2 linked regions of the Homo sapiens genome follow. The protein of the gene in region 1 purifies or fractionates together with the protein of each later gene. This does not show direct contact. Each region holds a gene or a part of one and is shown on either strand. Other genes may lie near its edges.

The links. The genes of interacting proteins can lie anywhere in the genome.
Region 2: the proteins of CCN5 (region 1) and PITHD1 purify together in Homo sapiens (affinity purification with mass spectrometry, with the first as the bait; one large-scale study listed by BioGRID). This does not show direct contact.

What each region holds. Positions count from the first base shown.
Region 1 is NC_000020.11:44,721,869-44,725,368, reverse strand, and holds part of CCN5 (CCN family member 5 isoform 1 precursor), read right to left. Parts: intron 632-3,500; coding exon 377-631; intron 1-376.
Region 2 is NC_000001.11:23,784,918-23,788,417, reverse strand, and holds the end of PITHD1 (PITH domain-containing protein 1), read right to left. Parts: intron 2,744-3,500; coding exon 2,639-2,743; intron 2,104-2,638; coding exon 1,995-2,103; intron 1,144-1,994; coding exon 1,042-1,143; 3' UTR 186-1,041; downstream 1-185. UniProt on the Homo sapiens protein: Promotes megakaryocyte differentiation by up-regulating RUNX1 expression.

The DNA of each region.
Region 1 (3,500 bases):
CCTCCCGGGTTCAAGCGATTCTCCTGCCTCAGCCTCCCAAGTAGCTGGGACTACAGATGCCCGCCACCATGCTAGGCTAATTTTTGAATTTTTAGTAGAGACGGGGTTTTCCTATGTCAGCCAGGCTGGTTTCGAATTCCTAACCTCAGGTGATCCGCCCGTCTTGGCCTCCCAACGTACTGGGATTACAAGGGTGAACCACAGCGCCCGGCCCTCCACTCCTCTTTCTTATCTCCCTCCTCAGCCTCCGCCCCTCCCAGCTTCTGATGTGTCCCTGGGTCCTGGTACCCAGGAAGCCGCCCCCCACCCCACCCCCTAGGTGGCCCTTGGCGCCCCCAGGCAGTCCTGCCCTGACCTGGACCACCGCTGCGCTCACCTTGGGCTGGAAGGGGCTGGGTCCCCAGTCCCCCTCCTTGGCCGCACACCCACTCAGGGCAGCACTTGCCCAGGACCTCGACCCTCCTGGGGTGGGGGCAGTCCCAGCTGGGCAGCCGCACATCCTCGCTGCACAGCGGCACGCAGGTGAAGCCGCCGTCCTCGCAGCGGCAGCGGATGCTGCAGTGGGGCTGGAAGGTCTCCCCTTCCCGATACAGGCGGCCGTTCACCTCACAGCTGCTGTCGTCCTCTGCCACTGCGGAGGAAAAACCGCACCCCCATCGGTGACCCGCAAAGCGGCACAGCCTTCTCTGCAGAGCTGCCCAGATCCCGCTGCCTGAGGCAGCTGCCTCACAGTAGCTGGGCCCTGCCCAGGGCTCCAGCCCAGGATATGCACCTCTCCCCAGCCCTCCACCAGCCTGCTGGGGCACCCTGGATCCCGGCACAGGGATTGCAAGAAGACAGGCCTGGATTGACCCCCCAAACTCTGCCCTTTCTTAGCTGTGAACCTGGGCCAAGTGATTTCACTTCTTCTTGCCTCAGTTTCCACATTTGCAAGCTGGGATATAATGGTACTTATTTTCCAGGGTGGTAGAGACTACTCGGAATGATAGGCGTAATGATCACAACATAAAAGAGACCTTCCATAGGTCCTAGCTACTCTGTTATTATCATTAGTATAGTTACTATATATTAATAAAGTTTAAGTATTCTATACACGCTGAGATTTCATGCAACAAAGTCGTTGTCCACTTGTGCTGTCATCACTGTCAGGTCAGGGCTTAACTTGCTGGCTGTGTGTCTTTGAGTAAGTTACTTAACTTCTCTGAGTGGCCTGAACTACAGCAATGATGAGCTCAGTAATCGTAACTTCAGGTTCCATGGGATGACATGTCCGTACCCTCTAGCACACAGTGCTAGGCATGGCCTAGGTGCTCAGGGAACACTCTTTCAATGAAGCCCTCAAGATATGGGTGTTATTGCCACTTCCTCCACTGGACATGAACTCCTTGAGGGCTGGGGCGGCCAGTGTGCGTCTCTGCACCCTCCGGTGGGCTCAGAGCCTAGGTGCGACACACAGTACTGTAGGAATGCCCCTTCAGTGAATAGCTGGCATAAGCCTTGGCACATGAGAGACCCTGATAAAATAGCCCTACTCCTTATCATTCCAGAGATATTTACTGTTTCCCGCCTGTGTGCCAACCACTGTGCTCCCAGACAGAAAGAGGACAGTTCCTGCCTTGAGGGACTCATGGGCTTGGGAAAGGGGGACGGGTGTGAGGGCATCATCTCCAAGACAGAATGAAGTAAGAGCGCTGGTGAAGCGTGTGAGCTGCTCAGGAAGTGCAGACGGGAAACAGCGTGTGTGTGAGACCTGGGTGGCCACTGAGCTACGTCTGGGGAAAGGACTCATTAGCAAACAAGTTCTCCCAGATCTTCTGAGAAAACCTTCCAGTAGGTCTGTACACACACAGGGGTTTCAGAACCAAAACCACACATACTTAGGTTCCAACTCTGGCTCCCACTTGTGGGGCCTGGGGCAAGTTATTTTGCCTCTCTGAGCCTTGGTACCCGGCTCACAGGGCTGCTGGGGGATTAGATGAGCTAGGGGACTTACAGCATTTTGCCCCAAGCCTGGCACATAGCAGATGCTCAATAAACAGGAGAGGGTTATGCTTCCACGTAGCATCTGCTATGTGCCAGGCTTGGGGCAAAATGCTGTAAGTCCCCTAGCTCATCTAATCCTCCAGCAGGGAAGGCCTTGCTGAGAAATAATGCTGGTAGAGGGAACAGCCAGTGCAAAGGCCCTGAGGCACGAGTGTGCCTGGGGTATTTAAGGAACAGCAAGGGGCCAATGTGGCTGGAGCAGAGAGCAGGAGGAGAGGAGGTCAGAGAGGAAGCATGAACAGGATCCTGTTGGGGCCTTGTAGGCCACTGTGGGGACTTTGGCTTTTCCTCTGAGATGGGAAGCCACCAGAAGGCTTGGGGCAGAGGAGGGAGGTGATCTGGCTTATGACTTCCCAGGAGCTCTCTGACTGCTGTGTTGTGAATAGACCAGGGGCAACGACAGAAGGAGGGAGATGATTATGGGGCTACTGCAAAATCCAGGCCAATGATGACGGGGCTCAGACCAGAAGGGATGGGAGTGTCGGATGCTGGAAATACACGATGAATTTGCTGGTGGGTGGTATGTGGGAGGTGAGAAAAGAGAGATGTCTAGACCGGCTGTGGTGGCTCATACCTATAATCCCAGCACTTAGGGAGGCCGAGGCGGGTGGATCACTTGAGGTCAGGAGTTCCAGACCAGCCTGGCCAACATGGTGAAACCCCGTCTCTACTGAAATACTAAAATACAAAAATTAGCGAGGCATGGTGGTATGTGTCTGTAATCCCAGCTACTTGGGAGGCTGAGGCGTGAGAATCGCTTGAACGCAAGAGATGGGGTTACAGTGAGCTGAGATCCTGCCACTGCACACCAGCCTGGGTGAAAGAGTGAGACTCCATCTCAAAAAAAAAAAAAAAAAAAAGAGAGAGAGATAGAGAGACCTCTAGAACGACTCCCAGGTCTTGAGTCTGAGCCATGAGAAGGATGGAGGTGCTCTCAACAGACTGGGGAGGCCGTTCTGGGGGGCGGAAGATCAGGATCCCGGCATTGGATGCGCTGTTATCACGATGGTGAATCTGCAGCACATCTCACAGCTCAGAGTTGGCCCTTAGAGAAGAGCGTTCAACGAGTAAGTGATGGGAGAGGTTTTTGGCAGTATGTTCCCTGCAAAGCCCTAGACTGAGCCTTTGTGATGTCTTAGCTGGACTCTTTGGGGTTCACCAGTTCCCGGCCTCTAAATTCAGTTTAAATCATTAAACACTGTTGAGCACCCATCATGTTGACAGACCAAGGTGGGAAGTTGCAGGAAGGACCAGGGACCCAAGTACGCCTTTGGCCTGCAGGTGTTTGAAGTCTGAATTAAGATGGAATAAGAAAAATCCCTTAATACAGTTATTAACAATCACAGCCTATGTACTAATCAACTGCTGCATGTCAGGCAGTTGAGCAATGGAGCTTGTGGAGCCAGCTCCCTGAGTTCAAATCTCAGCTCTGCCGCTTATGAGCTGTGTGACCTTGG
Region 2 (3,500 bases), on another chromosome or scaffold:
CTCCCAAAGTGCTGGGATTACAGGCGTGAGCCACCGCGCCCGGCTCCAGTCTTGATTTAATTGTGGCACTTCCTATAATCTACCTAGTCCAAAACAACAACAAAAAATTTCAAAGTTCAGTACAGTTCCCCATGAAATGAAAGTTGCATCAGTGGCTATCAAGAACTCAAAAGAAAATACAAACATTAAGTCTGGCAAGGATTTATTAGGAAGCTTATTAGTCACAGTGAATAAAAGCCATGAAAAGAAGAACTCAAATCTCCAAATTCTGGCATCGGACTTACAACACTAGTTAGAAGCTAATAAACATTAAGGAATTTCCAAGGGGAATCTTAACTAAGTCTCAATCTTACTGACCAGATTACCCACACACATAGAAATGATCCCCATGCTCTCCCCAGACTGCTTAGCTAGGCAGTGGAAAAGACCTTCTCCCCAAGCTTAAGCTATCACGCATCAGCAGGAGACTCCTGTCCTTCTAGCTATAACCACAGGACACATGTGCGTGACAGACAACTCCAAGCTGGGCAACTTGACAAGAATGCTGAACAATGAGAGGGGAAAGGAGCAAGCAGGAACAAGTGTTTTAGTTGGAGACCCTCCTGATGGCTACTACTAACACAATCCGGAGGCATCAGAAAGTTTCCTATAGCCCACAAATAGTTTCCTTTAAAAAAACAAAAACAAAAACAAAAAAACAAGTCACACAACAATCTTGCCACAAAGCAACATGACACTTGGAATCACATGGCCACATTAACTGGAAAAGCAAGTGTTACCCATGACTGCCAGATGCCACCCAGCCCAAGACCCAATTTCCACAGCGCCCTAGAGAACCACGATGGTCCCCTGGCACCTACACAACCCTCCCAGTGGTGTCGTATCTTCCGTAGGCCAGGTTTCTGCAGCAAGCCCCAAAGACAAAGCTTGGCAGAGGCTGTGGCAGCCAACTCTCTCTGGAGCCTCATCCCTTTGTCCTTCCCAACAGGTAGTCGTACATCTTCACTGACACAGCGCCTCTATGGGAGCCTTGGCCAGCCCTTAGGAAATAAAGTGTGTCTGTGGGGTAACCTGATGGACCCTATGGTCTGCTGGGTTGGCAGATGCTTCGTAATTGCAGATGGTCACCTCGTGTCGGCGAAGCTGCAAGAAAATTGAGGCTGGGTCAGCCAGCCATTAAAAGAACTGTCCTTTCCCACACCACACACATTGCGGTAGTCCTTATTCAGGTTCATTTCTAGGAGTCATCATTTAATATCTCCTTATTTTAATACTTAGATGTCATCATCTAATATCTCCCAATTTTGATACTTTTTAACTCCAGAAAGCTGCAAAGATCATTATCATTGATTCACCCTGTAACTTTGAAGATTCAGTCTCCCTACTATAATGGGGGTACCATGAGAATAGGAACTTGTCTATGGTATTATCTTATCCCTGGTTCATGAATAGAAAAGATTATCAAAAATACTCAATGAAAGCATTTGAAAGTAGAAAACTGTGAATTAATATAAATGACAATTTCAGGCTGGGCAAGGTGGCTCACACCTGTAATCCCAACATTTTGGGAGGCTGAGATGGGCAGATCACCTGAGGTCAGGAGTTCGAGACCAGCCTGGCCAACATGGTGAAACCCTGTCTCTACTAAAAATACAAAAAAATTAGCCAGGCGTGGGAGTGGGCACCTGTAATCCCAGCTACTTGGGGGGCTGAGGCAGGAGAATCACTTGAACCTGGGAGGCGGAGGTCGCAGTGAGCTGAGATATATATATATATATTATATATATTATTTATATAAAAATAACAGTTTCAACCCCCTTAAAAATACCTGTAGTTTCTCAAATGAGACGAAAAGTTTATACTGATAAAACCAAGAAAAATAATAAACTGGGAGTAATTATGACACTTGCTCTTTTCCCTTCCCTGGAAGCTCCCATCACCACAGTGTGCAGATATGTAGACATGAGGGGAAAACCTTTCCAACCCCATCTTACCTCAGTCCACTCTCCTCTCAGGCCAATATAAAAGACCTTTGTCGTATCTGCTCCGAAGTTTTTTGAAATATGAATTGAGAGATGATAGACATTTGAAAAACGAGAAATTCTAGAGGATGACAGGAATAGGGAAAGAAGGTATGAATTATAGTTCAATGAGTATCTCACCACCATGTGAAACAACAATTCAGCTCCAGCTTGTAAAAGCCAGGCAAAGTCAGAGCTCCTGAGTTCTTCCTTCTCCTTTGGACAGGCAATTAATTCAATGACCATTTACTGAGCACCTGCCAGATCCTGTCCAAGGCAGTAGGGATAAACACTGCTCCTGCCCTCAAGGAACAGGAATGAGAAATGCTGCATAACCCAGCAGGGATTCTAAAGCACATTTAGTGTTAACCTAAACTAATGGGAGACACATCTTTCCTAAAACCACCCTAGGAGTTCATTCAGATCTGCCAATTGCTTGCAAGTTAACAAGTCTGTGGCTTGCACTGAATCTCTGCCAAAAACTGACCAAGCCAAAGATCAAGTCTCCTCCACTGTTTTAACTCATTTCCAATGCTAAGAGAGCAGGAGACTGGCCAAAAATAAATGGCAAGCCCTATAAGAAGCCATAGAGAATGGAAGACAGGCCCAGTGCTTACTTTGTAGCATACTCTAATTCTCCTGTAAGATCCCGGTTCAGACTAAAGGTCTGATCTGGCTCCCTTTCTGTATCATCAAAGGACATCTGTGGAATATTCTTGTACCTGAGAAAGGAAAGGAAAGAAAAGTCAAGAAATGTGCATTATCACGTTTCAGGTTTTCAAAATTTTCTACTGACTGCTTAAATGGCTTTGGTTCTATCAATAGGAGACTGAATTTGGGGGTCATATTTTAGAAATGACATTTTATACAAGTATCTCCAAATATCTTTTTTTTTTTTTTTTTTGAGACAGAGTCTCACTGTGTCACCCAGGCTGGAGTGCAATGGTACAATCTCAGCTCACTGCAACCTCCACCTCCCAGGTTCAAGTGACTCTCATGCCTCAGCCTCCTGAGTAGCTGGGACTACAGGCGTACGCCACCATGCCCGGCAAATTTTGGTACTTTTAGTAAAGACAGGGTTTCACCATGTTGGCAATGCTGGTCTCTAACTCCCAACCTCAGGTGATCCGCCTACGTCGGTCTCCGAAAGTGCTGGAATTACAGGCATGAGCCACCGCGTCTAGCCTACAAATATCTTTAATCCAACAAAAAAAGAGCTGAGATCTGCAACATAACCCCATGGCATCTTTGAGTGGGTTAATATCACATGAGAAGCAATACACAAAGAGACGGCTCAAACTAGGTCACATGCAGCAAATGCATGGAGAAAATAAACAACTCAGCACATTCAGACCAAACTGAGGATGTTATTAAATAAAACAGCTTACTCATGGGAAAAATACATACTTTGGCAGAAACATATTACACACAGTTAAGAGATAAAAGATCAGGTAACCCAATGCTCAAGCATTTTTTTGT